Regions from separate parts of the Homo sapiens genome. Here region 2 is linked to region 1. Evidence: fine-mapped expression QTL. A gene starts in region 1. The other region holds a variant in brackets. All regions are shown on one strand. Distances are from middle to middle.

What was found. PIP is the estimated chance that this variant, and not a neighbour inherited with it, causes the effect. A credible set is the group of variants that fine-mapping cannot tell apart.
Region 2: its variant is the best candidate, but not a certain one, in a credible set for the expression of PACS2 in whole blood (TOPMed, PIP 0.57).

Annotation. Positions count from the first base shown.
Region 1 is chr14:105,306,649-105,323,116 of GRCh38, reverse strand. It overlaps PACS2 (phosphofurin acidic cluster sorting protein 2), which reads right to left and starts at 8,369. Exons shown (of 25, transcript NM_001100913.3): 1 at 8,080-8,369. The coding sequence starts at 8,198. It also overlaps a transcript of BRF1 not described here and the pseudogene LOC124903409. RefSeq lists enhancers at 1-197, 7,352-8,003 and silencers at 7,748-7,827, 8,058-8,147, 8,288-8,817, 8,918-9,007, 10,848-11,008.
Region 2 is chr14:105,285,211-105,294,351 of GRCh38, reverse strand. It overlaps BRF1 (BRF1 general transcription factor IIIB subunit), which reads left to right. Exons shown (of 18, transcript NM_001519.4): 2 at 7,976-8,056. Among named protein-coding and RNA genes, the nearest start is that of BRF1, 11 kb to the left of the region's middle. RefSeq lists enhancers at 90-219, 860-979, 1,130-1,279, 7,531-8,429. The variant A/G (reference allele first, on the strand shown) is at 3,297.

The sequences.
Region 1 (16,468 bases):
GACCCACCATGAGACGACCGTTGGCAACGATGACATGACCACAAAGCCACCCAGACGTCTCCCTCCAGCCTGTCACGGCCGCTGACCTCTTACAGCAAAGCTGGAAGTCAAAGCCAGGGACGCCCTGCCTGGACCTGTGGGAGGAGCACACACCACCCCAGCATCGTACAACCAGCACACGCCCTGCTCAGGGTGAGGGTAAACTAAAACATCTTCAGACAAACAGAAAGAGAAGGTAGTTATCAGCAGATCCTCACTAAAGGAAATCCTAAGAACAAATATTCAACAGAAGAAGGAAAATGATTCCTGACATGCAAGAAGAATGAGCAACAAAGGAAGTGGTGAGTTTTGAAGCTCATCAAATATCACAGTATAAAGCAGTAACAACATCTTGTGGGCTTCACAAGAAAACAATTAAGATACACAGTAACAAAATCATATAAATATAAACATGAAAGGGTTGGATTAGAATAAAGTGGGCTAAGGTCCCTGCATAGTTCAGCAGGAGAGTAAAGATACAATTAACTATGCACATTAAAATGTACAGGGTAGGCTGGGCGTGGTGGCTTATGCCTGTAATCCCAGCACTTTGGGAGGCCGAGGCGGGCAGATCATTTGAGGTCAGGAGTTCGAGACCAGTCTGGCCAACATGGTGAAACCCCGTCTCTACTAAAAATACAAAAAAATGAGCCGGGTGCGGTGGCGCGCACCTGTAGTTCCAGCTACTCGGGAGGCTGAGGCACAAGAATCACTTGACCTGGGAGGTGGAGGTTGCAGTGAGCCAAGATTGCGCCACTGCATTCCACCCTGGGCAACAGAGCAAGACTCCATCTCAAAAGAGAGAGACTCCGTCTCAAAAAATAAAAAATAAAAATAAAAAAAGGCCGGGCACAGAGGCTCAGCCTGTAATCCCAGCACTTTGGGAGGCCAAGGCGGGCGGATCACGAGGTCGAGAGTTCGAGACCAGCCTGGCCAACATGGTGAAACCCCGTCTCTACTAAAAATACAAAAATTAACTGGGCGTGGTGGCAGGCGCCTGTAGTCCCAGCTACTCGGGAGGCTGAGGCAGGAGAATCGCTTGAACCCGGGAGGAGAGGTTGCAGTGAGCCAAGATTGCACGACTGTACTCCAGCCTGGCGACACAGCGAGACTCTGTCTCAAAAAAAAAAAAGTCAGAAAAGGTCAGAGTGAATGAAAATGAAATCTAGATACATGCTGAATAACCAAAGACACATCTAATATGTAAGGATATACAAAGGTTTTTAAAAAGGATAGAAAAATAGCTAACAGGCAAAAATTATCCAAAAGAATGCTTGCATCAAAGTCAATACTAAAGACAAAAAGCATTACTAGATATAAAAGCAGTCATACAATGAGAAAAGTTCAAAATACCTAGAATTACAATTCTAAACATGTATGTACCTAATAACATAGCCTCAAAAATATATTAAGTGACGGGGCGTTAGTGGTTCATGCCTATAATCCCAGCACTTTGGGAGGCTGAGGCAGGTAGACTGCTTGAGCCCAAGAATTCAAGATCAGCCCGAGCAACATGGAAAAACCCAGTCTCTACAAAAAATACAAAATTTAGCCAGGTGTGGTGGTGCACACCTGTAGTCCCAGCTACTCGGGAAGCTGAGGTGGGAGGATCGATTAAGCCTGGGAGTTCAAGGCTACAGTGAGCTGTGATCGTCCCACTACACTCCAGCCTAGGTGACAGAGTGAGATCCTGTCTGGAAAAAAAAAAAGTATCAAACAGAAACTGACAGAACTGTTAGAAAACCCGGACCAATCTATTCTCAGATTATAAGATTTTAACATACATTTCTAGTAGACAAAAAAAGGGAACGGACTTGAAGACCACAGTAAACCAAGCTTGATCTAATAGACAAACACTGCACCATCAACTGCCAAACACACATTCCTTTTAAGTATAAACAGAACGTGCATTAAAATTGACACACTGACCCAGAAAGCAGGTTCAAAAAAAAATGTTTTTGCAGTGGCGCCATCTGGGCTCACTGCAACCTCCGCCTCCCAAGTTCAAGTGATTCTCCTGCTTCAGCCTCCTGAGTAGCTGGAATTACAGGTGCGTGCCACCACGCCTGGCTAATTTTTGTATGTTTAGTAGAGATGGGATTTCACTACGTTGCCCAGGCTGGTCTCGAACTCCTAACCTCCGGTAATCCACCCACCTCAGCCTCCCAAAGTGCTGGGATTACAGGTGTGAACCACCAGGCCCGGCCAGTCAGGTTATTTTATAAGTGAATTATCCCAAACATTCAAGGAAGAAATGATTCCAATTTTACATAAGCTATACCACGATACAGCAAAAGAGGCAGTACTCATTTCATTTCACAAGGAAATCTTAGCGCCAAAATCTGCTAAGGACTACAGAAGAAAGGAAGCACATAGACCCCAGACACACATGCAGAAGTCCTAAACAAGATACTATCATCTAAACCCACCAATGTGGGCAGGTAGGGAGGCTCACACCTGGAGTCCCAGCTCTTTGAGAGGCCAAGGTGAGAGGATCACTTGAGGCCAGGAGTTGGAGACCAGCCTGAGCAACATAGTGAGACCCCATCTCTACAAAAAATTTAAAATTAGCCAGGCCAGTGGCATGCACCTGTAGTCTCAGCTACTCAGGAGGCTGAGGCAGGAGGATTGCTTGAGCCATGGTCACACCACTGCACTCCAGCCTAGGCAAAAGAGCAAGACCCTGTCTCAAAAAATAAATACATAAATAAATATATATCCACCAATTTTTAAAAAGGGTAATACAACATGCTTAAACTAGTATTTTTCCAGGAATAGGTTAATGTTAGAAAATCAATTTACGGCCAGGCATGGTGGCTCACGCCTGTAATCCCAGCACTTTGGGAGGCTGAGGTGGACGGATAACAAGGTCAGGAGATCGAGACCCTCCTGGCCAACACGGTGAAACCCCGTCTCTACTAAAAATACAAAAATTCGCTGGGCGTGGTGGTGCACACCTGTAGTCCCAGCTACTTGGGAGGCTGAGGCAGGGGAATTGCTTGAACCTGGGAGGCAGAGGTTGCAGTGAGCTGAGATCACGCCACTGCACTCCAGCCTGGTAACAGAGCGAGACTCTGTCTCAAAAAGAAAAGAAAAGAAATAAAATCAATTTATGTAATTTACCACAATAGTAATGAAAAGATAAAAATTATATAATCCTCTTAATGAAAGTACTTGATTATATTCAACATCCACTCATAATGATTTCTTTAAAAAGCCTTTGCAAGTCATGAATAGGATGAGACTTTTTAAGTGCATAAAGGCTATCCACAAAAAGTTGCAGCAAACATCGTCCTTAAAGGTAAAACACTGGAAACCTTCCTTAAGGTCAAGACAGAACACGGGTAATCCACGCAACCAACCATATTCAACACTGTACTATGACAACTGGCACAGTCAGGCAAGAGAAAGAAAGAAAAGTATGAGGATTGAAAAGAAACAACTTTGTCTTTTGCAAAAGACAAAACATACATTTTGAAAATACAAAATAATCTATAGATAAGTTACTAGGTTAAAAATAGTAAAATCACTGATTTCTTTGAAAAATCAACTGAATTTCTATATGTTAGCAACAAACATAATAAAAAGCTGACTTTTACTATGACTTCTAAAATACAAGCATCTAGGAATAAATGTAACAAAGGATATGCATGACAGCAGAATCTTGTAAAACTCTCAAAATACATTCAAGACCTAAGTAAATAGCTTGATCATGAATGAGAAGACTCAGTACCACACAAACGTCAATTCTCCCCAACCTGCTCTACAGAGTTAAAGAACTTCCAATTATAAACCAAATGTGGCTTTGTGTGAAACTTAAAAAGATAATTCTGGCTGGGCGTGGTGGCTCACGCCTGTAATCCCAGCACTTTCAGAGGCCAAGGCGGGCGGATCACGAGGTCAAGAGATCGAGACCATCCTGGCCAACATGGTGAAACCCTGTCTCTACTAAAAATACAGAAATTAGCTGGGCGTGGTGGTGCACGCCTGTAGTCCCAACTACTCAGGAGGCTGAGGCAGGAGAATTGCTTGAACCCGGGAAGTGGAGGTTGTAGTGAGCTGAGATCGTGCCACTGCACTCCAGCCTGGGCGACAGAGCTTCTCAAAAAAATAAAATAGGCAGGGCGTGGTGGCTCACGCCTGTAATCCCAACACTTTGGGAGGCTGAGGCGGGCGGATCACGAGGTCAGAAAATTGAGACCATCCTGGCTAACACGGTGAAACCCCATCTCTACTAAAAATATAAAAAAAATTAGCCGGGCGTGGTGGCGGGCGCCTGTAGTCCCAGCTACTCGGGAGGCTGAGGCAGGAGAATGGTGTGAACCCAGGAGGCGGAGCTTGCAGTGAGCCGAGACAGCACCACTGCACTCCAGCCTGGGTGACAGAGCGAGACTCCATCTCAAAATAAAATAAAATAAAATAAAAATAAATAAATAAATAAATAAAATAAAAATACAAAAATTAGCCGGGCATGCTGGCAGGCGCCTGTAGTCCTAGCTACTTGGGAGGCTGAGGCAGGAAAATCGAAACAGGGAGGCGGAGGTTGCAGTGAGCCGAGATTGCACCACTGCACTCCAGCCTGGTGACAGAGTGAGACTCTGTCTCAAAAAAACAAAACAAAACAAAAAAATTAGACAGACATGGTGGTGTACACCTGTAGTCCCAGCTGCTCAGGAAGCTGATGTGGGAGGACTGCTTGAGCCCAGGTTTTAGGGGTTACAATGAGCCATGATCAAGCCACTGCACCCCAGTCTGGGCCACAAAGTGAGGCTCTGTCTCTAAAAACCAAACAGATGGCCAGGCCCAGGGGCTCATACCTGTAATCTCAGCACTTCGGGAGGCCGAGGTGAGAGGATCACTTGAGCCCAGGAGTTCAAGACCAGTCTGGGCAACATAGGGAGACCCTGTCTCTGCAACAACAACAACAAAATACATAAATAAAAACAAATTAATAAACATCAACCGAAAAAACAATCAAGTGGGAAGGGCAAGGTACAAAGCAGCCCAGCCCTTGCTGAAGAGCAGGTGGGGGCGCTCAGGGACATGGGCACCAGGAGGACACTCTGGGAACCCAGGAGGCAGAGGCCACAGACAGGCACTGACGCATACCCCGTGGACCACCTAGGAGCACCGTGTGTAACAGTGCTGAGCCAAAAGCGTCGCAAGGAAACCCGGAGCACAGGCCTCCCCAACAACAGCCCAGCATGCCCAGTTCAAGCTCCCGGGGGCAGACTTCTCCGGCTGCCTCCCAGAAGGAGAACCGAAACGAGACCAGCACCCCAGCCTGGCAAACAGTCAATGTGCACACTCCACCAGGCTGACACGGGGAGTGCACCCAGAGGCTGCTCAGAGAGCAAAGACTCGCTCATAACTGGACGGGGACATCCTCAACACAGCCGAGAAAGGATGACTATCTCTAAAGAAACTGCTGAAACTCAAGCAGAAAAAAAGAGAAAAAAAAACTGGCAAAGGAACAGGAATTTCACTGACAAGGAAGTACAAATGGCCTAAATTAGTAATCAGAGAAATTCAAGTTAAAACCACGATACCACTTCACACCCACCAGACTGGCAAAAATTAAGTCAAATGAGTGTTGGCACAAATGTGGAGCAGTGGGGACTCTCGTCCCTGTCAGTGGGGGCCGGAGCAGGCACAACCACTCTGGAAAACTGCCCAGCAGTAACGCTGAGTGCGTGCACACCCCCACCATAAATCCTGGTAGCTGGCGGTACATGCTTAAGACAGGCCCTGCCCATCCAGAAAGACACACGCAGAAGACTGGCACACGATGTCCACAGCAGCACGGGGCTTGTAATTAACCAAAAAACTGGAAACAAGCCAAGGTCCCTTGACAGAAGCAAAGCCGAGGTACTGTCACGCCAGTGAATAGTACGCAGCAGTGAACACGCCGAAAGGCATCAGCACACACGCAGCCCAGAAGCTTCATGGCTGGGCAAAAGTGAGGAGTACAGAAGAACTCAGGAGGAACAAAGCAAAACTAAGTAGCAGACTGTCCGAGGATGCACGGACAGGCGGCACAAGCACAAAGCAAAGCTAGGGGCAAGCCCGCCTATGAGGGGCCCTGTTCCAGGACAGGTAAGGGCAGGAGCTCATTATGAGGCTGAGCATGTCCTACGAACAAACTGCATCTGCCCACCTGGTCAGCTGCGCCACTCGCCCCTCCGCCCATTAACTCCTCCGCCCATTAACTCCACACCAACAGAACAAATCCTGTCCTCCTGCCTACCCTTCCTCCCAACCCTGTCCAGGCCAGAGCTCGGGACCCCCCCCAGCACTTAGTGCTACCCAGCCCAGGTGCCCCCATCTACCCCCGCCTGTCCTAACCAGGCTTCTCGAAACCCGCCCTACCCATACCCTCCCCACAGACACCAGAGTGGGCTTTCTAGACCCCTGGAGAATAGAGCACAGCTCCACAGGGGGGCTGATAAGGCCCCCGGCCCCTCCTGCCACACGCCCCCACCTCCCTTGGGTTAAAGACTTTGCTGCTCATTCGGAGGGCCCCAGGAAGCTGCTGCAGAGGTTCAGCAAGGGCAGGCTATGTGCTGCAGTGCTGGAGCAGGGGAGCGCCAACAGCCCGCATGAAGGTTCTGGGGCTGTGGGTGAGGCAGTGACTCAGAGGGGCAGACAGGAGAAGGGCTGTGGGGCTGTGGGACCTGACATTGGGGCAATCGCCAAGACCTGGAATGGAGAAGCAGCCAGGCCTGGGGAGATGCTCCTGGCTTTGGCTTTGAGGCCCCAGAGACTTCCCAGAAGAGAGGCAAGCAGGCACATCTGCAGTGCTCGGCCCCAGACCTTGGGCAAATGCTGACCCTTAGGTCTCATATGGACACTGGGTCCTTCGGGAGGCCCCGCCAGGTGCAAGAGTCGTGCCGGGTGGGCATCCTTCCTGTCCACTCAGCAAAACCAAAGCCCCGAGGTCCCAACCCTGCGCTCCAGGAGGGCAAGCCCCACTGTCCAGCGGCTCTGCAACTCCAACACCACGCTCAGAGATGCAGGCTGTGGGAGCCACAGGAAAGCACGGAGAGGCCCACCTGCAGCTGACTAGGGGTGGAACAACTCAATGCCACGTGGGGTCCCCTCCAGGCATACTGGCCACTTCCAGTGCCTGGAAGGTCCGCTCACCCTCCCATCTCCCCAGGGAGAACTCTCACTACCCCCAACCGCCTCCTCTTCTCGCCTGCTGTCTATTCTAGAACCAGAACTTTTCCGGAGAGCGTGTCTCTCTCCTCCTTAGCCTGGGAGCTTCCTGAGCAGGAACTACCAAGTCACGAAGAAATTACAAAAGTTTCAAACTGAGCAGGAGACTCAGGGAAGCTGCAAGTCCAAGGAAGGCTGGGCTATGGCCGGAGGGTAAACCCTGTCCAATCGTTACCGCTGGGCGACCGGGCGCCCCCCTACCAAGTGCAGAACAGCCAGTCTTCCGCAATGGCAAGATCAACTGGGAGGCGCAAATAGCAGTACTGGCTTGGCGACGCCTCTAAATGAGAGACAGCGCCAACCAGGTACCCGCGAGGACGACCCCGCCCCGCAGGACAGGGCATCTCCACCGCGCGCTGGACGGAGGATACAACCGAGTCCTGCGCGCCCCGTGCGCCGGGGGTCGCTCCCAGGCCGAGGTCTGACAGTGTCGCCGAACGCGAAAGGAAGCGTGTGGTACCCGAGAGAGGAAGCACCCTCGTCACCCCGGCCGGCACCGCATTGAGGCAGGTGTGCAGGTGCGGTTGCGGCGAGCCAGGTGAGCGCCGCCCGGGAGCCCCAAGGTCCCGCCGGGTCTGAGCAGCACCGGGTCCTCGGAAGCTGAGCGCGGCCCCCGGTGCTCGGGACCTGGGGGGCTGGGGCCGCGCTTGCCGGAGCTGCGGGGGGGCGGCGGCTGCACGCGTCGAACCGGCGGGCGGGGGCGCGGGGGGCGACCTGGGCTCCGCTGGGGGACCCGGGCCGGGGATGGGGCGCGCAGAGGCCGCGGCCAGGACACCCCCAGCAGGTGCCCGGCGGGAACAAAGCGCGGCGGGCGGCGCGTACCTGGGCACGCAGCTGGGGCTGGAGCCGTCCACCTCCCAGGTGGCGAACAGGTTCATGGGCACGGGCGTGTTGAGCGCGCCGGGCGCGCCGGGGAGGCCGAGGCGGCCTCGCTCGGCCATGGCGCCGGCCCCGCCGCTCCCTCGGCGGCCTGGGGCTGCGGCCGGGCCGCGGACGCGCGGCGGGCGGGCCGGGCGCGCGGAGGGCGGCGGCGCGGTCACATGGCTGCCGGGCGGCGGAGGGGACGGGCCGGGCCCCGGCGTCGGACAGGCCCGCGGGCGGCGACGAGCTGCGGCCGCTCCGCCCCGCCCCGCCCGGCGCCCCGCCCGCGCCCCGCGCGCCCCCGGCCGCCCCGCGCGCGCCCGGCGCCCTCCGACCCGCGCCGGCGCCGCCGATTGGCTGGGCGGGGCGCCAGCTCGCCGCCTCGGGTCCAATCGCCGCCGGCGCAGCGCGCGCCGGAAGTGAGGTGCGCGCGCGCTTCCTCCGGCGGCGCCTCACGGGGCGTCCCCGCCCGCCGGTGCGCGAGAGCGCGCACTCACGCGCCTGCGCACAGACCCCGCCCGGGGCGCCCCGCCCCGCCCCCCGGGAGCCGCGGGCAAGGGCCGGGAGAGTCGTGGGGGTCCACCGGGTCCCGGCCAGCTTCAGGCGCCGCCCCCTAAGGAAAGCTCATCGTCGCCCTGGCGATGCCCACCTCCCCACGCGCGGATTCCCCGGCCTCGACACTTTCCCGCCTCCACCCCGCCATGCCCCGAGTCTCCCCGCCCCCCTGCCCTCGCCGCCCCTTGTCTCCTGCCGACCCCCGCTGGGTTGGCCCGGCTGTGCGGGCCCCGCCCGTCCCCGAGCCCCTCCCTCGCGCCCCCCTGCGTGGGTTCCCCGGGACGCAGGGAGGTGGCAAGGAGGTGGCCGGGCCTGGCGGCGGTCGCGGGGACTCGAAGCCACTCGGGGCGCCAGGCTGCCGAGCTTAGCCTCCAGGGCTCCAGATGACCCCGGGCGCCCTCTTTGCGTCCCAGCATCCTTATTCAGCGCCGCTTTTCAGCGTTGTGCTCAGGACAATGGAGAACAAATGTCTGGGGCCAAGGCTGGCTCCTGGCCCTGGGGTTAACAGTGAACTTGGGGACCCAAGCAAAGAGGAGGCAATGGCTAGAGCCGCTGGGGCCCGACGTGTAGGCTCTGGGGCTCAGGGAGGGTGCTTCCCCCATCTGTTTGGCAGCGGCTGTGGTCCAGCACCAGATGCCAAGCCGAGATTTAGGAAACGGTTTTCTGGCCTCTCTTCTGTTTCCTTGTTTCACAGTTAGTTTACAGTTGCTTTTCTCTTCGCCCTGTGTCTTGTCTACAAGTAGTTTTACTGAAACAAATCCAGCCCGAGCAAATTGACCTGGAGCTGGTTTCTTTCCTGGCCCACGGGGCTTGCCACCCCAGTGCCCCGTCAGCTCCTTCTGCAAAGGCCCTCATGCCGCTGCTTCCTCCGTTGAGAGAGCTCAGCCTCCAGCTGTAACTCCTGTATCTAGAACTGCAAACAGCTGCGACTGCTTAAAGTCAGGGTCCCACTTCGGAGAGAACAAGGGACTCTGTGTTTCCCACGCGCCCCTGGCTCCTCTAAGGTGGTACACTGAGAGCCATGAGGGTCTGTCTGACCTTGGCCAGCTGCTCGGCGGGCAGAGGGCCGGTGGATCTCATACCTTTGAGACAGGGTAGGGGGAGAAGTGACTATGTCCAGAGAGGGGGTAGCCATACCCCAGGAGGACAGGCTGTCTGTGATGGGAGGGCAGGAGACAGGCACCCATTGACCCCAGAACTGAGCGTACGGCGCTGCTGGACCTGGCGAGCGTGCAGTTGCAGTCAGACGGATGGGCCGCCTGACACATGGTGCCTGTGTATGCCAGCGTCTAACCCAGGCAGGGACTACAACTGGGGGTCAAGTGAGGAGATGCGGGGTGACTAAGCCGTGCACAGCAGGGCTTGGCACCAGCTGCCACCATTGAGCGGTGCCCCTCCTCTGTGCCAGGCACCGTTGTGAGCCCTTAAGGGACGTGACAGTTCTGTCCCATCCCAAGTGACAAAAGAGGAGATGGCGGCCTGTGAGGTTATGCAGCTGCCAGGGGTCGGGATATGACCCACACAGTCTGTACCAGAGTGGCCCGAAGAACCCGTATGGTGGGTCTACATCAATGCTTCTGCCAGGCAGGAAAGCAGGGACACGAAACACACCATGTGTCACGCCTGCGACCACGTTTATGTTTGTTTTTAAGGTGGGATGGTGGTGATGGGACTGTGGTCTTCTGTATTTTCCAAGTGCACAGATGTCCCTTGGGTGATCAGAGTAACTTTTTAGCCAGAACTTGTTATTTGCACTGCCCTCCTCTGTCGGAAAATGATGCTGTGCTGGTCCTTCTCTTGAGGGCTGTGGGTCACAGGAGGAGATCCCCTGAAGGCTGGGAGGCATCCCTCCCCATGCTATGACCCTGGCATGGTGTGAGCCCTCACCCCCGTGTTTGGAGCACAGGTGCTTTCTCTGGTAGCGTTTTCTTTAAAGCAGGAACTTGGTTTGAGACAAACCTCTCGGATGACTGGGGTGGCTGGGCACGGTTGGGGAGGAGGTCCAAGAAGAGGATCCTTCAGAGCCCTGGGGTCTCAGGAGGACAACCTGAAAGCTGGTCCTACCACGTGCTGCCCGGGGTCCCCGGAGGTTGTGGGAGTTATTATTATTTAAGAAGTTAAAGCTTCAAGGTTCTGAATGCTTGGCTAGGATTCCATTGGTATTAAAAAGACGAAGCCCCAACCCCCAGTCATGGGACAGGATGGGCCGAGGCCTTTCCTCTGTCCGCCTGGCTTCGCTAGGTCCCTCCACCTAGGGTGAAGGCTCAGGCTTTTCCAGTCGGGCGCCAGGACCATGGGCTGCTTGGAAACGCATTCATCTCCTCAGCCTGGGCTAAGATGACACAGACACACAGCAGGCCCTGCTGAAGTCGGGGAGTGGGGGAGGGGCCTCCTCCAGGGCCAGCACTGGTCAGTTGGCGGCTCCAGCCCACAGCGCCCCTACTCCTTCTCCTGCCAGGAGCTGGGCTGAGGAAGCAGCCCCACGTGGCCAGGTCCCTGCCCAGCCCATGCTATGGCAGAGGGACAGAACTGCCGAACCCCTAGACAGGCCCTGCCGCATCCACTCCCATGGTTGGAGCACATGGCCATGACTGAGGCTGAGGAGGAATGGTCACAAAAAAGGTACAGCAGGGCCCTCCTCCTGGAGGCATTTTCTGGGAAGCCATGTGGGGGATGGCCAAGAGCTCTAAGACCGCTGAGATCGCTGCACCCGCAGCCGCACCTGTGGACAGTTCCCACGGTCACCCTTAGAGCAGCTCAACTGCTGAGAGTGAGGCCTGGAATCAACCCCGGGGTTGTAGAGTAGAACAGGGTTAGGTGAGCCATGATAGAACCTGATAGAATATTCTACAGCTGGCAGAAATAGTGAGTTAAAAGTAGCTAAAAACAGGCCAGTCGCAGGGGCTCACACCTGTAATCCCAGCACTTTGGGAGGCCAAAGCGCACAGATCCCGTGACCTCAGGAGTTCAAGACCAGCTTGGGCAATATGGCAAAGTCCCATCTCTAACAAAAATACAAAAACGTACCTGGGCATGGTGGTGCGCATCTGTGATCCCAGTGACTTGGGAAGCTGAGGTGGGAGAATCACTTGAACCCAGGAGGTGGAGGTTGCAGTGAACCAGGATCACACCACTGCACTCCAGTCTGGGGGACAGAGCCAGGCTCCATCTCAAAAAATAAAAATAAAAAGGCCGGGCACAGTGGCTCATGCCTGTAATCTTAGCACTTTGGGAGGCCGAAGTGGGTGGATCACCTGAGGTCAGGAGTTTGTGACCATCCTGGCCAACATAGTGAAACCCCATCTCTACTAAAAATACAAAAAATTAGTGGGGCATGATGGTGCGCGCCTGTAATCCCAGCTACTCGGGAGGCTGAGGCAGGAGAATCGCTTGAACCCAGCAGGCAGAGGTTCCATTGAGCCAAGATTGTGCCACTGCACTCCAGCCTGGGTGACAAGAGTGAAACTCTGTCTCAAGAAAACAAAAATGTATGTGAAAATGCATGTCCATGTGCAGTATGTATTTACATGTTAGTGATTATACATATAAAACACCTATTTTCAGGTATAGAAAAATATTGATAGGATACAAATTAATCCAAAGTGTTAAGAAAGTATCTCTGTGTGATGGGGATTCCATTGATTTGGTTTCTCCTTTTTGCTTATCTTTATCTCCTATTTTCTCCATGATGAACATGTATTAATTGTGTAGGGAAAATCAAACCACAGCAGGGTGAGCTGCCGCTGGCTGGAGAGCCGGGCGCCATCTGGCTGGGGCTGCGCCCCGTCCTGAAAAAACCAAACGTGCAAAGGGAACCCTCACCCAACGCAACAAACTATTGAGGATGATCTTTGTAAGAATACTGAATGTTTCACTAGGGTAACATTCTTTTTTTTTTTTTTTTTTTTTTGAGACAGAGTCTCGCTCTGTCTGTCGCCCAGGCTGGAGTGCAGTGGTGCCATCTCAGCTCACTGCAAGCTCTGCCTCCCGGGTTCATGCCATTCTCCTGCCTCAGCCTCCTGAGTAGGGGGGACTACAGGCGCCTGCCACCACGCCTGGCTAATTTTTTGTATTTTTATTAGAGACGGGGTTTCACCGTGTTAGCCAGGATGGTCTTGATCTCCTGACCTCATGATCCGCCCGCCTCGACCTCCCAAAGTGCTGGGATTACAGGCGTGAGCCACTGTGCCTGGCTCACTAGGGTAACATTCTTAATATCAAAGGAAATCATACAAGTCCATAAGACCACTAAAAAATTCCCAGTGGAAAATGGTTAGAGAAGCTACAAAAGATTCACAAAAGAATAAGTGAGACAGTTGTCACTACTATCACGAATTGTAAATTATAAAAAGATGCACATGGCTGGGTGCGGTGGCTCATACCTGTAATCCCAGCACTTTGGGAGGCCGAGGCGGGTGGATCTCCAGGTCAGGAGTTCAAAACTAGCCTGACCAATACACTGAAACCCCGTCTCTACTAAAAATACAAAAATTAGTCGGGTGTGGTGGCGGGCGCCTGTAGTCCCAGCTAGTCGGGAGGCTGAGACAGGAGAATTGCTTGAATCCAGGAGGCGGAGCTTGCAGTGAGCCGAGATTGTGCCACTGCACTCCTGCCTGGGCAAGAGAGTGAGACTCCGTCTAAAAAAAAAAAAAAAAAAAAAAAAAAAAGACACACATCACCACCTTCTCCTTAATGCAGGCTAATCTAGACCTAATACAGACCTAAGGTCGTGATGACATCCTCGGTGTCCTGCACGCTGCTCCCCTCCTGGGTTGGGCGCAGGCAGCGCAGCTCCCTCACACAGCACCTGGGGCAGGACCCAGAGCAGCTCTGCAGAGTGGCTTGGCAGCGTCTTGGGAGATTTGCCTGGGCTCATGGGTATCCCATGGCATCCTGCAGGTGACACTGGAAATGTCAACAGGGACACAGGTCCAGGTGTGTGAGATATTTCAAACAGCAACACCTACAGAAAGGAATGTCCAGTCCAGGGGAAATGACAAAACTTGCCCTGGCACATCCACCCCATGGGATGTGGAATAACCAGCAAAACGGAACGCTGCCTCAGTTTTAGCAACATGGGGAAATTCTCAGATATGTGATTGTGTGACAAATCAGGGTGTAAAGTTGAACACAGCATGACCTGGATTCAGGAATAAAACTCTCCCCTCTTGACTGTGGTTATCCTGAGCCCCAAGATTAAGAGGGACCTTGATGCATAAATTTTAACACTTCTTTCTTTCCCACAATAGAATATCATCACAATAAGCCAGGACATAACTTAAATATTAGAAAAGAAAGGAAAACACCCAGGCCCTAATACAGAAATCAGCCAAGGACATTCACAGACATCAGAACAGCAATTACCGCAACACGTGTCAACCAACACTCAACCTCAGTGCTCTTCGTGCAGGATGGATTTCTGGTTTTGTTAGGTTTTGTTTGTCTTTTTCTTTTTTTTTCTTTTGTTTTCTTGACAGGGTCTTGCTCTGTCAACCAGGCTGGAGTGCAGTGGTGCCATCATGGCTCACTGTAGGCCAGATCTCCTGGACTCAAACCATCCTCCTGCCTCAGCCTCTCAAAGTGCTGGGATTACAAGTGTGAACCACTGTGCTGGGTCCCTAAGGGTTTTAAAAAATTATTTATTTATTTAGAGACAAAGTCATGGCTGGGCACAGTGGCTCATGCCTGTAATCCCAGCACTTTGGGGGGCTGAGGCAGGCGGATCATGAAGTCAGGAGTTCCAGACCAGCCTGGCCAACATGGTGAAACCCTGTCTCTACTAAAACTGCAAAACTTAGCTGGGCACAGTGGCTCATACCTGTAATCCCAGCTACTCAGAAGGCTGAGGCAGGAGAATCACTTGAACCCAGGAGGCGGAGGTTGCAGTGAGCCAAGATTGCACCACTGCACTCCAGCCCGGACGACAGAGCAAGACTCCATCTCAAAAAAAAAAAAAAAAAAAGACAGAATCTGCCTCTGTCGTGCCCAGGCTGGAGTACAATGGTGCCATCTCAGCTCACTGCAACTTCTGTCTCCTGGGCTCAGGCAATCCTCCCTCTTCAGCCTCCCGAGTAGCTGGGACCACAGGCATGTACCACCACACCTGGCTAATTTTTGTATTTTTGTTAGAGATGCTGTTTTGCCATATTTCCCAGGCTGGTCTCAAACACCTGGGCTCAATCAATCCTCTCACCTCAGCCTCCCAAAGTGCTGGGATAACAGGTGTGAGCCACTGTGCCCGGCCTAATTGTTTTTTTGGGGGGGACAGAGTCTCACTCTATGGTCCAGGCTGGAGTGCTGTGGTGTGATCATAACTCACTGCAGCCTCAGTCACCTGGGTTCAAGCGATTCTCCTGCCTCAGCCTCCCAAGTAGCTGAACTAGAGGCACGCACCACCACGCACAGCTAATTTTTAAATTTTTTGTAGAGACAGGGATCTCACTTTGTTGCCCAGGCTGGTCTCGAACTCCTGGGCTCAAGCTATCCTCCCACCTCTGCCTCCCAAAGTGCTGGGATGACAGGCGTGAGCCACTGTCCTGGCCTGGCCCTTGACTTCTGTGGTGGAAGGTGGACTGGAGCCTCACCAAGTCTCACTCGAGTTGCGGAGAACAGACAGGAACAGGGACTTGCCTTCTGAGCAGTCTGTCTACCAGACACATGTCCTCCATCATACTCCGCAGTGCTAGGGTGGGCTATTCTTATCCCTGTTATGCAGATGAGGAAGTAGAAACCTAGAGAGATTGAAGCACTTGCCCAAGGCCAGGCAGCAGGTGAGAAGGTGAGAAGGCCATAGAAGCTTGCTTTCTCATTTCCCCTGCTGACTGCTGCATGGGGGGACAGGGCTATTGAGTACCCAGGAGTTATTTTGATCAAATGTGATAAGATGACAGACACAGAGACAACCGCCTTTGAAAGAGGAGTTTATTACTCACAGTTCCCAGGAGGAGGGGCACGTGGGGAAGCACCCAGGGCCAGTCAGGACAGGGAGGGGGTGAAGGGAAAGGGTGGGCAAGAGCCTTTATTGCCATTTTCCAGGCAAGGCAGAGGAGGCAAGCTGAGCAGAATTAGAACTGGGTCATTTCAGTGGGCTCTGGGCTTGGGGGTGGTATCTAGCTAGCTGGTACCTGGCCTTGGGGTGATTTAGGGCAGGGGGCTAGTGTTCAGGAATGCAGGAGCCTGATGAAAGGAGGCAGGTGGGACTCATGATGGTTGCTCTGCATATCAAAGGTATGCTCAGCCTGCACGGTGGCTCAAGCCTGGGATCTCAGTACTTTGGGAGGCTGGGGCCAAAGGATCTCTTGAGCCCAGCAGTTTGAGACGACAGTGAGCTATGATCATACCACTGCACTCCAGCCTGGGTGACAGAGTGAGACCCTGCCTCAAAAAAAAAAGAAAAAAAGAAAAAATAAAGTAAATAAGGCATACTCAGAGGCAAGTGGTCAGCTGTCTCTAGGAATTAGCTAACCCTGGGAGGGGAGTCCCTCTCTAGGTCCACGAGACCCCAAGATGTCAAAGCACCACAGATGAGAACACGATGGGGCTTGGCACGGTGGCTCACGCCTGTAATCCCAGCACTTTGGGAGGCCAAGGCAGATGGATCATTTGAGGTCAGGAATTCAAGACGAGCCTGGCCAACATGATGGAACCCTGACTCTACTAAAAATACAAAAATTAGCTGGGCGCAGTGGCAGGTGCCTGTAATCCTAGCTACTTGGGAGGCTGAGGCAGGAGAATTGCTTGAACCCGGGAGGTAGAGATTGCGGTACATCAAGATCGTGCCATTGCACTACAGCCT
Region 2 (9,141 bases), 25 kb after region 1:
CCGGGTGCTGTCAGAACAAGCTCAGAGCCAGCGCTGTCAGGTGGCCCCAAGACGCCTCTGAGCCCAGGCACACTCTCTGGAGGGAGGCGCAGGCCCAGCAACCAACTGTGGTGGTCCTGGGGGAAGTGCTGCGAGGCGGCGGGTTCTTAGCCCCTGGGGACCGGCGCAGGTGGTGCCTGGGCCGAGAGTGGGGAGGAGAGAGGGGATCTGTTGCTCTGGGCAGCCCCTCTGTCTCCCAGGCAGGCTCTCTAGGTGCCCACTTGGCATCCTTCCTCCCTCGTCACAGTGGTGATCACAGGGGGCTGGAAACCTTGGTGGCTTCTCAGTTTCCCTGGCACACAAGTAGGCCCCAGCCGCCCCTTCCTCCAGCTTCATCTTGAAAGCTGAGCTTTCTCTCTGAGCTGTCGTTTTCTAGTCCCAAGGCCACTGTCTTTCCTAGGTGTTTTGCCTATTAATTGAGAACTAAGCCTGATACAGCTTCGCAGTTTACTCTGGAATATTTAACTAAGGCATCAGGGCAGGTGACCAGAGGCCTCAGGAGAGTCCCCAGAGGGTCCTGACCTTGGAAGCCAGGCCCCACGGGGGAAACCACACTGGTGCTCCAGCGTCCCGGGGCACCCGAGCAGAGACTGTGCAGAGAGAAGGGTGGGTGAGGACTGAGGCTCAGCGTGGCTGGAGGGGCCAGGCAGACGGTGGAGTTGGGGGCCGTTGGCAGTGCCCTGAGGAGGCCGTCTGCTCCACTGAGGCAAGGCGGGGCTTCCCTGTGAGCCCACATCAGTGTCCTGCACTGTGTGTGCCCTGAGGCTTCCCTCTGCCAGCAGGTGATGGTGATGGCGCCCACACACCAGACATCCTGGGCTCCTGCTTGCAGGGGTCCCTCCTCGTCCTGTGCAAGGAGCAGCACACCTCAGTGTCACCAGAACTTGTGGGGGTGGGGAGCGTTTCCCGTAATCACAACTTTCAGTGGCTTCACAGTTAGAACTTCGAAGCTGGGGTGTCCGTGAGTGCTGCTGTTTTCCGTTTGGGGTCACGATGCAGCCGGACCTAATTTGTGACATGGCTGCATGTCACCTGGCGCTGGCCCTGGAGGGGGACATGGGTGGTGGAGTTGCCCTCGCCTGCTGGGAAGCTCCCTCTGCCTCAGAGAAGGATGTGACCGGCCAGCCTCTCCCTGCGGCCTGGGGTTCTGAGCATGCGCCTGGCCTCCTGGCGGGGCTCTAGTCCTGAGGGTGGAAGGCTCCAGGCTTCTGCCTCTGCTCCATGACCCCCAGAACCCTAAGTTGTGGCTGAAGGTGCCTGCTCTTAGGAAACGGGTGAATTCTGTCCCGTTGCCATCTGGGTGAGGGAGGAAGCTGCTGGTTAGCCTGCAGCGTGACACACGTCCTGTTTTCCGTAACCAAATTGTAATCACTACAAAACCAGCTCCTCCGCAGTGGCCTGGGGAAGGGGCCTGGGCTTGGGAAGGGGTCTGGACCTGGGGAGGGGATGTGGGCCTGGGGAAGGGGTGTGGGCCTGGGAAAGGGTTGCTCCTGGGAAGGGTCTGTGCCTGGGAAGGGGTGTGCGCATGGGAAGGGTCTGCGCCTGGGAAGGGGTGTGGGCTGCCGTGCTTGGCCCTGTTTGTCAGTGCTCCTCCCAGATGTCTGATGCTACTGCATCCAGCCCCACCAGTAGGCACACGCTCTGTGTTCCCGGGTCCCCGTCCCCAGCTCTCAGGGATGCACTGCGGTCTGGTCCAGCCTCCTTTGGGCACTCACCTGTGGGACCCCTGAATTCCTCTCCATCCATTACTGCCCAGCCAGCCAGGCCTCCTACAGGTGTCTCCCCTTAAAAGAAGTTTCCAGTCAGGTTTGGTAGCTCATGCTTGTAATCCCAGGATTTTGGGAAACCAAGGTGGGAGGATCACTTGAGGTCAAGAGTTTGAGACCAGCGTGGGCAACATAGTGAAACTGTCTCTACAAAAACTAAAAAAACAAAACAAGAAAAAACCCCAAAATACAAAAATTAGCTGGGCATGGTGGTGGGCGCCTGTAATCCCAGCTACTTGGGAGACTGAGGCATGAGAATCGCTTGAACCCGGGAGGTGGAGGTTGCAGTGAGCCAAGATCGTGCCATTACACTCCAGCCTGGGCGACAGGAGCGAAACTCTGTCTTGTCTTCAAAAAAACAAACAAAGAAAACAAAAAATAAGAAAACATTAGCTAGGCGTGGTGGCGCATGTCTGTGGTCCCGCCTATTTGGGAGGCTGAGGTGGGAGGATTCCTTGAGTCCGAGAGGTTGAGGCTGCAGTGAGCCGTGATGGTGCCCCTGCGCTTTAGCCTGGGTGACAGAGTGAGACTTCTTTTTTTTTCTTTTTGAGATGGAGTGTCTCTCTTGTTGCCCAGGCTGGAGTGCAATGGCGCAATCTCATCTCACTGCAGCCTCCGCCTCCCGGGTTCAAGCGATTTTCCTGCCTCAGCCTCCCAAGTAGCTGGTATTACAGGCATGTGCCACCATGCCCGGCTAATTTTTGTGTTTTTAGTAGAGACGGGGTTTCGCCATGTTGGCCAGGCTGGTCTCAAACTCCTGACCTCAGGTGATCCACCCGCCTTGGCCTCCGAAGGTGCTGGGATTACAGGCGTGAGCCACCACGCCCGGCCAGACCCTGTCTCTTAAAAAAAGGAAGTTTCACAGCAGCAACAGAAAGTCTCCAGTTAAAAAAAAATTTTTTTTTGACAGAGTCTTGGCTCACTGCAACCTCCATCTCCTGGGTTCAAGCAGTTCTCCTGCCTCAGCCTCCCGAGTAGCTGGGACTACAGGAGCACACCACCATGCCTGGCTAATTTTTTTTTTGTATGTTTTAGTAGAGACGGGGTTTCGCCCTGTTGGCCAGGCTGGTCTTGAACTTCTGACCTCAAGTGACCCACCCACATCGGCCTCCCAAAATGCCGAGATTACTGTCATGAGCCACTGAGCCCGCCCCCAGTTAAGTTGAATGAGCACGTGAATATTAAAGGTTATTGCTTTCTCATGTTGGAAGAATCCTGGTGTGAAATGGACAGTGCTGTGCTGGGTCTTTCAGGACATGGAGGGCCCCTGGCCCGCCTTTCTGTCTGTTCGGCGGTATGGGGTGTTGCTGGCTTTGTCGGAGCTCAGAGGTGCCCCTGCGGCCTCTGGCCCTGCTCTGGCTCTGGTGGAACCGCAGGTCCTCCCTTGCTGTACACAGGGGGGCAGTCTTGGCCAGGCCCCACAAGACCTGGCCCCTTCCACATGTCAGTTCCAGCTAACGGGAACTAGCACATATTTTTTGTTATAGAAAC[A/G]CGCTATGGAAAATACCAAATGTTTTTAGAAGTAGAGGGCATCCTGGCAGTTTCAGCCAGAGGTGGCACTTTCCTCTTTCATCCTCCCTGTGGGTTAGTGTTCTGAGGTTTCACACTGTCCACATGTGTCCTGTGTGTGTGTGCCTGCAAGTGTGCACGCACCAGGGTGTGAGGCAAGCAGAAGCCAGGAGGCGCTTCCAGAGCAGGTGCAGCAGCGTGGCCCCAGGGAGGGTGACTGTGGTGTTGGGGGACAGGGAGAACAACACAGGGACAGGAAACAGAGGTCCTGGGGTGTGAGGAGGGTATGGGAGGCTGGAGGGTGCAAGACAGAGTGATGGAGGAGGGAGGGCAGAGGTGGCAGGTGGAGCGTGGAGCTGCTGACGCATGCAGCTTTGCAGTGTGCTGTGGTGCAAGCTGATGGGTATGGGTCAAGGAGTGAAGAGATTGCGTAAAACACAACCAGAATCGAAATCATCACTGTAATTTAACGTGGCATCTCACTGTGGCCCTGTTCTGTCAGAAGCACGCCTGCAGCCCACTGTACCTAGGCAGGGAAACGTGGCTATAATGGAGGCTGTACGGCGTCCCCTGTTCTTGGAAGGTGGGGCTTCAGGGGCTTTTTATTTATTTGTTTTTGAGATGGAGTTTCGCTCTTGTTGCCCAGGCTGGAGTGCAATGGCGCGATCTCGGCTCACCACAACCTCTGCCTCCCAGGTTCAAGTGATTCTCCCGCTTCAGCCTCCTGAGTAGCTGGGATTACAGGCATGTGCCACCATGCCTGGGTAATTTCATATTTTTAGTAGACACGGGGTTTCTCCTTGTTGGTTAGGCTGGTCTCGAACTCCCAACCTCAGGTGATCCAACCGCATCGGCCTCCCAAAGTGCTGGGGTTATAGGCGTGAGCCACTGCACCCAGCTGGCTTTTTATACTTTGATCATTGTCCTTTTTCTAATGTAGTGTTATATGAGTTATTTATTAAAAGCATTATATACACTAATTAGAATATAGTGAGATTTTTCTTTTTCTAAAGTGAAAGTTGGTGAGGGAGCATGTGCTGGAGACCAGCATGCCAGGGGCTACACAGAATGGTGATCTTAATTCGAACGCTTAGAAAAAACAGGCGGGGCGTGGTGGCTCACGCCTGTAATCCCAGCACTTTGGGAGGCCGAGGTGGGTGGATCACTTGAGGTCGGGAATTCAAGGCCAGCCTGGCCAACGTGGTGAAACCTCATCTCTAGTAAAAATACAAAAATCAGCTGGGCGTGGTGGCACGCACCTGTAGTTCCAGCTACTCAGGAGGCTGAAGCAGGAGAATTGCTTGAATCCGGGAGGCGGAGGTTGCAGTGAGCCGAGATCGCACCACTACACTCCAGCCTGGGCGATAGAGCGAGACTCCGTCTCAAAAAAAAAAAGAATACACACTGCTCACAAAACAAAGAACTCTGAGGGAGGGTCGGAGTTGCAGGCACCTGGAGCTCAGCCTGGGGAGGCCTGGGCCAGATTTCTGCAGAATTTAGAATTGGCTCATCAGTGCTGCTCAAAGCCCCCTTATTCCAGGATGGGTCTCTCCTGAGTCCTGCGTTTCTCCCTGGCCTCTCTTCTGGATTCTCATATCAGCAGGCACCTCACTGTGGCCCTGCCAGGTCCTCTCCAGCCCCCACAAGGAGACACCACTGCGACCTGCTCCAGCTTCTGTTTAGTTTATTATTTGTTCAGACAGGTTCTCACCGTGTTGCTCAGGCTGGAGTGCAGAGGTGCATCACAGCTCACTGCAGCCTCCACCTTCTGGACTCAAACGATCTGCCTGCCTCAGCCACCTGAGTAGCTGGGACCACAGGCATGCCCTACCATACCCCGCTCATTTTTTTTTTGTAGAGATGGGATCTTGCTATGTTGTCCAGGCTGGTCTTGAACTCCTGGGCTCAAGCAGTCTTCCTGCCTCAGCCTCTCAAAGTGCTGTGATTACAGATGTGAGCCACTATGCCTGGCCTGTTCTAGCTTCTTTTTTTTTTTTTTTTTGAGACAGGGTCTTGCTCTGTCACCCAGGCTGGAGTGCAGTGGCACGATCTCAGCTCATTGCAGCCTCGACCTCCCGGGCTCTAGTGATCCTCCAACCTCAGCCTCCTGAGTAGTAGGACCACAAGCAGGTGCCACCACACCCAGCTAATTTTTTTCAGTTTTTTTTTGTAGAAATGGGTCTCCCCCCATCCTGGCTAACACAGTGAAACCCCGTCTCTACTAAAAACACAAAAAATTAGCCGGGCGTGGTTGCAGGCACCTGTAGTCCCAGCTACTCGGGAGGCTGAGGCAGGAGAATGGCATGAACCCAGGAGGCAGAGCTTGCAGTGAGCCAAGATCACGCCACTGCACTCCAGCCTGGGTGACAGAGCGAAACTCTGTTTCAAAAAAAAAAAAAAGAAAGAAAGAAAGAAAGAAATGGGTCTCCCCGTGTTGCCCAGGCTGGTATTGAACTCCTGGGTTGGGCGATCTTCCTGCTCCGGCCTCCCAAAGTGTTGGGACCACAGGTGTGAGCCACCATGCCCGGCCACCACTCCAGCTTCTTTTTTACTTTATTTTATTTTTATTTTTATTTTTATTTTTTTGAGACGGAGTCTTGCTCTGTCACCCAGGCTGGAGTGCAGTGGCACCATCTCTGCTCACTGCAACCTCCACCTCCTGGGTTCAAGCGATTCTCCTGCCTCAGCCTCCTGAGTAGCTGGGATCACAGGCACCCGCCACCACGCCTGGCTAATTTTGTATTTTTAGTAGAGACAGAGTTTCACCATGTTCGCCAAGATGGTCTCGATCTCCTGACCTCGTGATCCACCCACCTCGGCCTCCCAAAGTGCCGGGATTACAAGCGTGAGCCACCGCGCCCGGACCTTCTACAGCTTCTTGAAAGCCACTAGGTTTGTGGCAATTTTTATGGCAGCCACAGAAAACTAGTACATAGATCCCAGTTGTGACAACCTAGGTAGTCTCCAGGCACTGCCCCCGTCCCGGCACCACCTTTGTTGGAGGCCTGTGCTCAGTGCTGGTGCCCTGCTGCTGCTGCCGGCCACCCCTGTGGCCACGTTACCCACCAGGAGGCCGGCTCTGGGCCTCAGCCTGAAGGAGGCCCGGGCTTTGCCTCTGCTGCCACCAGGAAAAGCTGAGTGCCACCTGACCCTGTTCAGCTCTGAGTTTCCGGACGGGCCCAGTAGCTGCCCCTTGCTCTCTTCAAAACTTTTCTTGGCTGCTCTAATTCCTTTTTGCTTCCAACTGAACTTTAGAATCATTTTACTGGAGTCTTTAAAGAGTGTTGTTAGTATTTGTTTGGGATTCAGTTACATTCATTGTGAAGCCAGAGGCCGTGCCTGTTCTGCCTTGTCTGTGCTGGTGGCTGCCCCTGGATGACGCTGAGGTCCCTGCCTCATGGTTTCCCTGGAGGGCCTGGCCCCAGGCTCCAGCGATTGGCTTTCTGCTTCTGCATCCTATCCTTCCAGTGTCCTCCGACAGGCCCTACACACTTGCCTTCCCCCAAGTGGCCAAGGTTGTCTGCGCGTCCCGATTGCAGCAGCCTCCAGTCCTGTGTCTGTGCTTTGTCACAAATGCACTGGCCCCTGTGCCAACCACTGAGGGCCGACGCTGCGGGGCGGGGGGCACTTTCCAGCTCTCCCCATCTTTGGGCATGCCTGGGGCCTCACCTTACTGTTCTCGTTGGAAGATCAGGCCGCAGCGTTTGGGTTGGTGAACCTGGTGAACAATCCACATGTCCACCATGCTCATTGGGAGATCAGGCTGCAGCGATCGGGCTGGTGAACCTGGTGAACAATCCAAATGTCCACCTGATGTTTCCAGAGGTACCAGGGCCAGGTCTTAACCCCGAAGCCCTGCAGGGCAGAATGTGGTGGACGTCGTAGGCATGCTGTCAGTTGGCAGAGCTTCGGAGTAGAGTGTCCAGCAGGTTCAGCTGCAGCCTCCCCATGGGTGGGTGGACTGAGGCGTGGGGGCCTTCTGCAGACTGGCTGGTTGCAGTGCCTTGGGGCACATGGGATGGTACCTGCGTCCCCTGCAGTCCAGCAGGGAGGTGGATGTGTTCACATGTGGTCACCATGCAGGAGTGATATCTGAGTGGGCTGGCCTGGGGCAAGGGGGACGGCCAGCCCATGCTGTGTGTGCACCACTTGCAGAGGTTTGGAGGTACATCTGTGTTCTCGCCCGGCAGCCATTTGACAGCGTCCACTCTGGACTTGCAGTGTGTTAGGGACATGGTTAGAAAATGCAGAAAGTGCCTGTAATCCCAGCCGGGCGTGGTGGCGGGCACCTATAGTCCCAGCTACTTGGAAGGCTGAGGCAGGAGAATGGCGTGAACCCAGGAGGCGGAGCTTGCAGTGAGTGGAGATGGGACCACTGCACTCCAGCCTGGGCAACAGAGGGAGACTCCGTCTCAAAAAAAAAAAGAAAATGCGGAAAGTGCAGTTGGCCCACCCTCAACCCTGCTGGCTGGGCAGAGTGAGAGATGCTTCCCCCACTGGGGTTCCTGGCTCAGTGACGGAGGTGCGGGGGGCCGACCTGCTGCTTCCCCCATGAGTGCTGACCCCCGCTTTGTTCTCACTTTGTGTCTGTGGATGTTAGGAAAGGGTTGTAAATGCAGATCTCCAAGTTTTGGCTGATCTGTCTTTTTTTGTGTTTCCAGGTGCTGGCAAAACCCCGACTCTGGGTGGCGGCTTCCACGTGAATCTGGGGAAGGAGTCGAGAGCGCAGACCCTGCAGAATGGTATTTCCCACCGCGGATGCTGCTGAGCGTGCGGCGGGTCCCAGAGATGGGGATGGTGGTGCTAGGGTGGAGGGCACTGACTCAGCCATGGACCTCATGGCCTGCCACTTCCTCGTCACCCTGCACGCCCAGCCCAGGCTGCTTTCCAGGAGGAATTGTGCCCTGAGTCCCCTCCTGGGTGTCCTGCAGACTCTGCCAGGGCTGTTTGGGGAGAACCCAGTGGATCCCACAGGATCCACAGCCATTGCTTGATGGCCTCAGTGAGATGGAGGCAGAAATAACACATTTATAGCAGTTGGATATTGTAGTGACATTCTCACTGCGTTTTGTCAAAGTGCCAGTTCACCACAAACTGGAGAAATGTCTGCTGGGTTATTTGTCTTATGATTGAGTTGAAAAAGTTCTTTATGTGTTTTAGGTACAAGTCTTTTATCGGATGTGTGATTTTATATATTTTAGGTGCAAGTCGTTTATCGGATGTGTGATTTTATGTGTTTTAGGTACAAGTCTTTTATCGGATGTGTGATTTATAGGACATTTTCAGCCATTTCATGCGTTCTTTTCATTTTCTTTTGTCTTTTTATTTTTCGCTGGTATCCTTTGGAGCATGAAAGTTTTAAATTCTGATAGTATCCAGTTTACCTATTTAGTCTCTTGATGGCTGTGCTTTTGGTATCATAACTAACAAATGTTGCCTAATCCAGTCCAAATCGTGAAGATTTGTGCTTATGATTTTTTGGAGTTTTGCGCCTTCCTCTCTTTCCAGTAGGTTTTGGTCCATATTGAGTCAGCGTTTGCATGTGATGTAAGGTAAGGGCCTGCCTTCACTCCTGCACGTGCAGACCCAGTTTTCTCAGGACCATGTGTTGAAAACACTGTATTTTGCCAGTTGGCATCCTCTTGGTGCCCTTGCTGAAAATCGATTGACCGTAAACCTAAAAGCTCATTTCTGGATCCTCAGTTTGGCTTAGTGACTGCATGACAGTCCTGGTGCCCGTTCCACGCTGTTCAGGACACTGAAGCTTCGCAGTCAGTTTTGAAATCAGGAACTGTGAGTCCTCTAACTGCTCTCTTTCAAAAGTGTT